Regions from separate parts of the Homo sapiens genome. Here region 2 is linked to region 1. The links come from fine-mapping of genetic effects on gene expression. Tissue or cell type: whole blood. Region 1 holds a variant in brackets; the other region holds the start of a gene. All regions are shown on one strand. Distances are from middle to middle.

Region 1 (4,000 bases):
CTGTGATTGGTTCTGTGCTGTATACAGTCCCTTGTGTGACTACCGTAATGTCCAGTCTCCATGTCAGCTGCTTCCAGCTTTTCATGATTACATACAGCACTGCCATGAACATTCTTATGCACCTACAAAACAGAGCTTCTTCAGAGTAAAGACTTAGGAGGGCATCTTCCTATTGATGACATATTGCCAAATAGCTCTCTAAAATGGTTTTACCAAGTCATTCCACATCCTCACCATCACTTGGTTATGTTTGATGAGTGGGACATTCCCCGAAGGTTTTAATAAAGTTGAACTCTTTTTTCCTTTTGATACGGGGTCTCACTCTGTCACCCAGACTGGAGTGCAGTGGTGCAATCACAGCTCACTACAACATCTGCCCCCAGGCTCAAGTGATCCTCCCACCTCAACCTCCCAAGTAACTAGGACTACAGATGTGCACTACCAGGCTCTGCTAGTTTTTTTTGTATTTTTTGTAGAAACAGGGTTTCATCATGTTGCCCAGACTGATCTTGAACTCCTGGTCTCAAGCGATCCTCCCACCTCAGCCTCCCAAAGTGCTAGGATTACTGGCGTGAGCCACTGTGCCTGGCCTAAATTGAACTCATTAAGTCAGTTCATATATGTTTATCAAACACCATCTACGTACCAAGCACACAACTAGAAGCTGAGGGTAATGAAGGGGGATAGAACTCAGTCTCTGCCCTCAGTGAGCTTGCAGTCTGGTGAGAAATCACCTCATTCTCTTACCCACAGGAAACCACTGTCTTCTTTTTTTTTCTTTTTTTTGGAGATGGAGTCTTGCTCTGTTGCCCAGGCTGGAGTGCAGTGGCATGATCTTGGCTCACTGCAAGCTCTGCCTCCCAGGTTCACGCCATTCTCCTGCCTCAGCCTCCCAAGTAGCTGGGACTACAGGCGCCCACCACCATGCCTGGCTAATTTTTTTTTTGTATTTTTAGTAGAGACAGGGTTTCACCATGTTAGCCAGGATGGTCTCGATCTCCTGACCTTGTGATCCGCCCGCCTCGGCCTCCCAAAGTGCTGGGATTACAGGCATGAGCCACTGCGCCCAGCCCACTGTCTTCTTTTTAAAGGACATGCTCATAAACTCATGACAAGACAAAAGCCAGGTGCTTGGGCAGAAGGGCCTAGGATCTGAGGGCCCAAACACCTTCAGCCAAGCTCAGACAGGATGGCTAGAACCTTGGCTCAAAGCTGGTGGCCCCTCAGGCTTCTGGAACAGGGTGGCTGGAAGGCTCAAGGCAACAGCCACGGTCTGGTGAATCACCCTTGGGTGGTAGTGCCCCTGCATTCAGAAGGCCAACAAGAAGCCTTCAATTCTCTAGGTAAGCAGTTGGCAAGACTAGGCTGGGGGCAGGTGTATGAGGGAACTGTAATCACAGCAGTATTAGTGGTGCCAATAATCATATTAAAGCAATCCTGCAAGACAGGCAGGGTGAGGAATCAAGTGTGTCTCCTGGGATTTGGGCCTGAGCCACCAGGTAGGAGGATCGGGTCAGAGGCAAGGTCAGTGAATGGAGAGCTCTATTTCTGTCTGGTTGTTTGAGGAGCCACGTCAAGTCAGCAGTGTGCTAATTATTGAAACTTATGCTTTCCTGCATTGTAGAGTTGATTATCTTTCTTATATATCTTTTTCTTATAGCAAATGAAGGACTCCTTGAAAGAAGTGGCAGGGATCTCAAAAATATTCTTATCAATGTTCTGTATCTTGATCATAGTGGTGTTTACACAAGGGTATGCATTTATGGAAACTCATCAAACTGGACACTTTAAGTCTGGGGTACCCAACCCCTAGACTAGTACCTGTCTGTGGTCTGTTAGGGACTGGGCTGCACAGCAGGAGGTGAGCAG[C/T]GGGCAGGTGAGCATTACCACCTGTGCTCTGCCTCCTGTCAGATCAGGAGTTGAGAATAAAAGCTAAAATGGCTCTTGGCTATAGCTCTGGGTATAGCTTAACTAAGGAAATCAATCCAGAAATGCACATTGAACCCAGGTATCAGCAGGATGTGACTCCAGACTCTCTAAGGGATATGAAAACATTTTTTAAAAACCACCTTAATCAAGTTATAATTCACATACAATAAAATGCAACCACTTAAAGCAGCAGTCCCCGACCTTTTTGGCACCAGGGACCAGTTTTGTGGAAGAGAATTTTTCCATGGACCAGGAATAGGGTGAGGGTAGTTTCAGGATGAAATTGTTCCACCTCAGATCATCAGGCATTAGATTCTCACAAGGAGCATGCAACCTGGATCCCTTGCATGCGTGGTTCACAATAGTGTTTGAGTGCCTGTGAAAATCTAATGCTGCCACTGATCTGATAGGAGGCCGAGCACAGGTGGTAATGCTCACCTGCCCGCTGCTCACCTCCTGCTATACAGCCCAGTCCCTAACAGACCACAGACAGGTACTGGTCTGGGGGTTGGGTACCCCAGACTTAAAGTGTCCAGTTTGATGAGTTTCCATAAATGCATACCCTTGTGTAAACACCACTATGATCAAGATACAGAACATTGATAAGAATATTTTTGAGATCCCTGCCACTTCTTTCAAGGAGTCCTTCATTTGCTATAAGAAAAAGATACATAAGAAAGATAGTCAACTCTACAATGCAGGAAAGCATAAGTTTCAATAATTAGCACAGGCTATGAGGGCCAGGGTATGGAGGGGGCAGCCTCTTGGGAAGTACCTGGTCCTAATGCCAATATACTTGGGACAGGAAGCTCTCCATCACCCAGAGAGAGCCAAGGCAGAGGCAGGCCAGGCACCACAAGACCTGCTTCTCCCAAAATATTTCACTGGCCTGAAATGCCACCATGAGTCACCCCTTTGGTTTAAAACATTTGCTAGTCCCTCTGAAATAGCCATATTAAAATGTACATAAATGACCCACAAGACAACCTTTGAGGTGTGTGGCAATTTTACCTCCACTGACATGTGCAGGTAAAATTGGTTATTGGATTCTGCTACCTCAGGAGAGGAGAGGGCAGCTGCTGGACTCCTCTCATCTCCTCATTTTTTAAAAAACCCCGTGAGAGAGTGATTTCCTTCTTTTAGGATGTCTCAAATCACTACACGGAGGCAAGCCCCATTTGAAAGCTTGTAACATCCATCCTAACCCCAAAAGAAGGGGGATTTTGTGAGAAGAATGAGTTCAGCAGGGATGTGGGAGAGGCCCAGCACAGGGGTGGGGGGGAATACCCAAAGTCCATGGTCATCAGGGGCATTGGGGCACTGAAGGTTAGGACTACAGGTGTTTCCCCCTGGAAAAGAAAAGACTGCAGAGGTAGGAGATTGCTGCCCTCAAATATCTGAAGGGTGGTCGTGAGGAAAGAGGACTGGAATAGTTTGATGTGACCTAGTTGGGAGTAGGGTGGGGAAAGCCAGAAGGCAGCAGGTTTTAGCTCAACGTGGGGAAGAACTTTCTTATGGTCAGAGTTACAGGCAAGGGAATGGGTTGCCCCAGGAAGTGGTAAGATCCCTGTCATTAAAGGTATGTAAGCTGAACCCAGACACCCCTTAGCAAGAATTCAAGCTCTTAGGTCCCTTCCATCACTGAAATTCTCTAATTTGTTGGTAATCTCATGGGTAGCCCTTAAGAAGCCCCAAACCAACAAATATTAGTTGAGCAATTGCTTTGTACAAGGCAGGATGGGGCTTGGACGCCAAGGCACAAAAGCCATGGCCTCTGGCCTCTATTTAGCTGGGCAGGTGGTATAGGGGCAGGGTGTGTTTAGAATCACAGAAAGGATAGAAAACACATACTTTTACATTTCAGAAGGAGGAGATCCTGCCAAGCGCTACAGTAGTCCAGGGAGGCTCCCAGGAGGAGGCAAGATGGGGGAACAAGCCCTGGGAGAGTCTTCAGAATTCAGACAGGTAGAAAGAAAGCAGAGGGTCCCATGACGGGGGAGGTAGGAAATGATGAGGTGCCAAGCTGGCTGGAAGGATGGAACATGAGGGAATAAACAGAAGTATTGGAGAG
Region 2 (4,000 bases), 150 kb after region 1:
CGCCCCATCTGGGATATGAGGAGCGCCTCTGCCCGGCAGCGACCCCGTCTGGGAGGTGAAGAGCGTCTCTGCCCGGCCGCCCCGTCTGAGAAGTGAGGAGACCCTCTGCCTGGCAACCACCCCGTCTGAGAAGTGAGGAGCCCCTCCGCCCGGCAGCTGCCCCGTCTGAGAAGTGAGGAGCCTCTCCGCCCGGCAGCCACCCCATCTGGGAAGTGAGGAGCGTCTCCGCCCGGCAGCCACCCCGTCCGGGAGGGAGGTGGGGGGTCAGCCCCCCGCCCGGCCAGCCGCCCCGTCCGGGAGGGAGGTAGGGGGGTCAGCCCCCCACCCGGCCAGCCGCCCCGTCTGGGAGGTGAGGGGCGCCTCTGCCCGGCCGCCCCTACTGGGAAGTGAGGAGCCCCTCTGCCCGGCCACCACCCCGTCTGGGAGGTGTGCCCAACAGCTCATTGAGAACGGGCCAGGATGACAATGGCGACTTTGTGGAATAGAAAGGCGGGAAAGGTGGGGAAAAGATTGAGAAATCGGATGGTTGCCGTGTCTGTGTAGAAAGAAGTAGACATGGGAGACTTCTCATTTTGTTCTGCACTAAGAAAAATTCTTCTGCCTTGGGAAAAAAAAAAAAAAAAAACTTCTGAGGGGTGAGTTTAAACTGTTTGCCATGTATCATATGACCTCCCCCAGGGCCCAGAGTACCCTAATGTCTTTGTACTCGTCAATGTTTTGTGTGGGAAGGGTGCGGGCAGTCCTTAGGGAGAGCTGAGTTTCCTCTCCAGACTTCTGAACTGTGGTACGCAACAGCCTGGCAAAAGCAGAAACCCAGAGGCAGAGATATTTAGGAGAATATAAATCCCCAGATATTTGCAAATATGTTAAGGGAGGGACTCTGACTTTCACCGTCCATTTTTACCTCAATCTCAAAGGGCAAGGAGGTTGACATCTAAGTTACAAATATAATGCACAAGCATTTCAAAAAGTAGGGGAAAAAAAAGAAAAAGAAAAAGAGAAGCAGAAAGAAGGGGGAAAAAATCACTCATCCCTGCCAGGCACGGTGGCTCACGCCTGTAATTCCAGCACTTTGGGAGGCTAAGGTGGGAGGATAACTTGAGTCCAGGAGTTCAAGACCAGCCTGGGCAACATGGCAAAACCCTGTCTCTACTAAAATTACAATAATTAGCTGGGCGTGTGGCGCATGCCTGTAATCCCAGCTACTTGGGAGGTTGAGGCAGGATAATCGCTTGAACCCGGGAGGCGGAGGTTGCAGCGGGCTGAGATTGCGCAACTGCACTCCAGCAGGGGCGACAGAGTGAAACTGTGTCTCAAAAAAAAAAAAAAAAAAAAAAATCACTCATCCAGATAGCTAGGTGTGGCCTAAGGAGCTTGCGGCCTACGGAAGGTGTGGCCGAAGGAGAGGGGAGGGGTCATCTTTAATGATGATGGAGGGGAGGCATTGGTCATATACCTGAGAGTCAAGCTTTGTTCATCGTCAGATGAAAGCCAACTTCTTCCACCAGATTGCCTCCCAGCTGCTAGGTAGTTTCCTGTGGTACATCTTAAGCGGTAGGTTGGGATAATAGGTCCCTTCCAGGTCTTAAAGATGTGGATTAATAAGAACAGAATTTTCTACAACAATAAGGAGGATGTCCCCTATTTTAGGTGAATAAGCGTATTGCATAAGCACATGGGAAGAAAGGTTAAGAACTCTAAGACCGTAAATTTCCAGTTGTAGAAGCCTCTTGAAGGCGGAAAGCCCTTTTTTGAAAATTATAGGCGATATGATCTCCTCCAGTGGACCTAGCACTGGGTTAAGAGTCTCTCCAGACTTGTCACTGCAAGTCACGTACCTTTTCTAGGACTAAGTTTCTTCACTGGAAGATGAGGAGGTTGCACTAGATGACCTAGAAATTCCCTTCCAGCTTTAAATTCCCTCTTGTGTCACTTGCTGGACTTGTTCTACTGGACCTGGCGCTCCCCTGCTCCTCCCTTAGCTGCTACGTCCGCATCCCGCACCAGAGGGCGCCACAGGCTGGCCCGGGGCAGCGTGCGGTGGGCGGAGAGGCAGAATTAGGGGAGTCTCCAGGAGGCGTGGTGATTGGCCGCCGCCGGGCGGAAGGGGGCGTGGGGAGGGAAAGGCCGAGCAGCGCGGTGACGTCTCGCTGGCGGGGGCGGGGCCGGGCCGCGGAGCGTGTGACGCTGCGGCCGCCGCGGACCTGGGGATTAATGGGAAAAGTTTTGGCAGGAGCGGGAGAATTCTGCGGAGCCTGCGGGACGGCGGCGGTGGCGCCGTAGGCAGCCGGGACAGGTCAGTCCGAGACGAGAGAAGCGGTCAGGCAAGTGGCGGAGGGAAGCGCCGGGCCTGGGCCGAGGCGGCCAGCGGGACTGGGGCGCAAGGCCCGGCGGCGGGGAACGGGGTGCGGGGAGCTGCCGGGGTCCGCGGACAGCGTCACGGCGGCTTCCTGATGCTCCGGCCCGCTCCGGTCAGCCGTCGTGCGTTGCCATGTAGGCGCCCCGCTGACCCTGCGCCCCCCCGCCCTTGGACCCCCATAGCTGCTTGAGTGAGTCCGAAATACGGGCCTCCTTCCACCCTACTCTTTGCCCCCTCTTGGGCCTGGTGGCTTCGTCTTCTCCCACTTGTGAGAACCCCGTCTCAGGCCCGGGGGCCTCTCCCATTCCCCTCCCCTGCCTCTGACCTCTTCCTTCACCCGTTTCTGGTGTTCCTGAATCCACTGCCCTATCTAGCGAGAGTCTTCTCTGGGATCTTTTCCTCTGTCCCCCTCGTTATCCTTGTCTCCTGCCTTCATCCTCCCATCCTTGCTCTCTCAGGCTTTACTCTCTCTCCCCATCCCTGTCCCCTTCTTATCTGTGGTCTGATCCCTCCTAGTATTATGGGTCCCCATCCTCTTCCCCAGGGTGTTCCTAGGCTTTTTCCAACTCCGTGCCTGCAGTCCCTGTCTCCCTAAGACTCTCACCTTGGTTCCCTGAGAGGCCCTGTTTTTGCTCCTTTTTCCGATTTCCTTCGTATCAATTCTGTCCCCTACATTCCTGTCGCCCACCTCCTTTTCTCTCCCTGTTCCTTTCCCCTGCTTCAGGGAGAAGCCTTAGCTCCACACTCTACTCTACTTTCACTTGACCTGCAGTTGACATAACCATGGGGTGGGGGTGGAGGTGTTCAGACCTTGATCGAATTAAGAGGCTGATTGACTAAAGGAAATAACAGATTGTGTGGGAGAATGTACGTGGGTGTTGCATCAGAGATGATGTCCAATTTGTAGGCCATTCTTCTTATCTCAGCTTTAATACTTCCCCTTTATGGGGCTGTTGACTTCCAGGAACCCTTGGGGGAGACGGCGCTGAGCTGGATGTGTGCCACGGGTAGCCGGAGGCTTTGTCCAATTCTTTTCCCCTTCCAGGAACCGGGGTTTTGTGTCTTTCCACTCTGGATGTGTGGAATACACTTATACCATGATACCCCAGCCTCTCTCTGCCCTCACTCCCACCCTCCACCCTGTGCTCCATCCGAAAGGACTAAGAGAATTCTCCAGAAGCTGTGCTCCAGAAAATACTTGTGGTCCTCAACCTTTTTTCTGTGTACTGGCTCCAGAACTTTTTTTTTTCCCGTTTGAGTTTTGAAATAGATTGCTGGCCTGATAGCCCTGGGGCTGGCGGGCATCTGTCCCCTTTTATTATTGGTGGCTTGAAACAGCTGCTGATTTTCTCTCATATCTCTTTGACAATCTTTGGCCAACTGAATGTGCCTCTGATGTTGGTCACTGAACATGTTCTCTTGGAGTCTCTTCTCCCTCTTTTTTCTTTGTTCTTTTCTGAATCTAGGGAATCCAAATTGTCCCTCTTTTTCCCTGGGAGCTTAATTTCCTCTGTATCCAGGAGGAACGGCAATCCCAGAGCTCTGTTCCCTTTGCCCAGGCATAGTATGAGGTATCAGATTGATAACTACCCTGGTGGGCTGTGGGGCTGCAGTAGTTAGACCTTGTCAGGAACTTGAGCA

What was found. PIP is the estimated chance that this variant, and not a neighbour inherited with it, causes the effect.
Region 2: it holds the start of PPARD, and the variant in region 1 is the best candidate, but not a certain one, in a credible set for the expression of PPARD in whole blood (TOPMed, PIP 0.59).

What each region holds. Positions count from the first base shown.
Region 1 is chr6:35,187,680-35,191,679 of GRCh38, forward strand. No RefSeq gene overlaps it. Among named protein-coding and RNA genes, the nearest start is that of SCUBE3, 24 kb to the right of the region's middle. The variant C/T (reference allele first, on the strand shown) is at 1,870.
Region 2 is chr6:35,340,386-35,344,385 of GRCh38, forward strand. PPARD (peroxisome proliferator activated receptor delta) reads left to right here and starts at 2,173. Exons shown (of 8, transcript NM_006238.5): 1 at 2,173-2,296. RefSeq lists silencers at 2,025-2,234, 2,415-2,554, 2,585-2,634.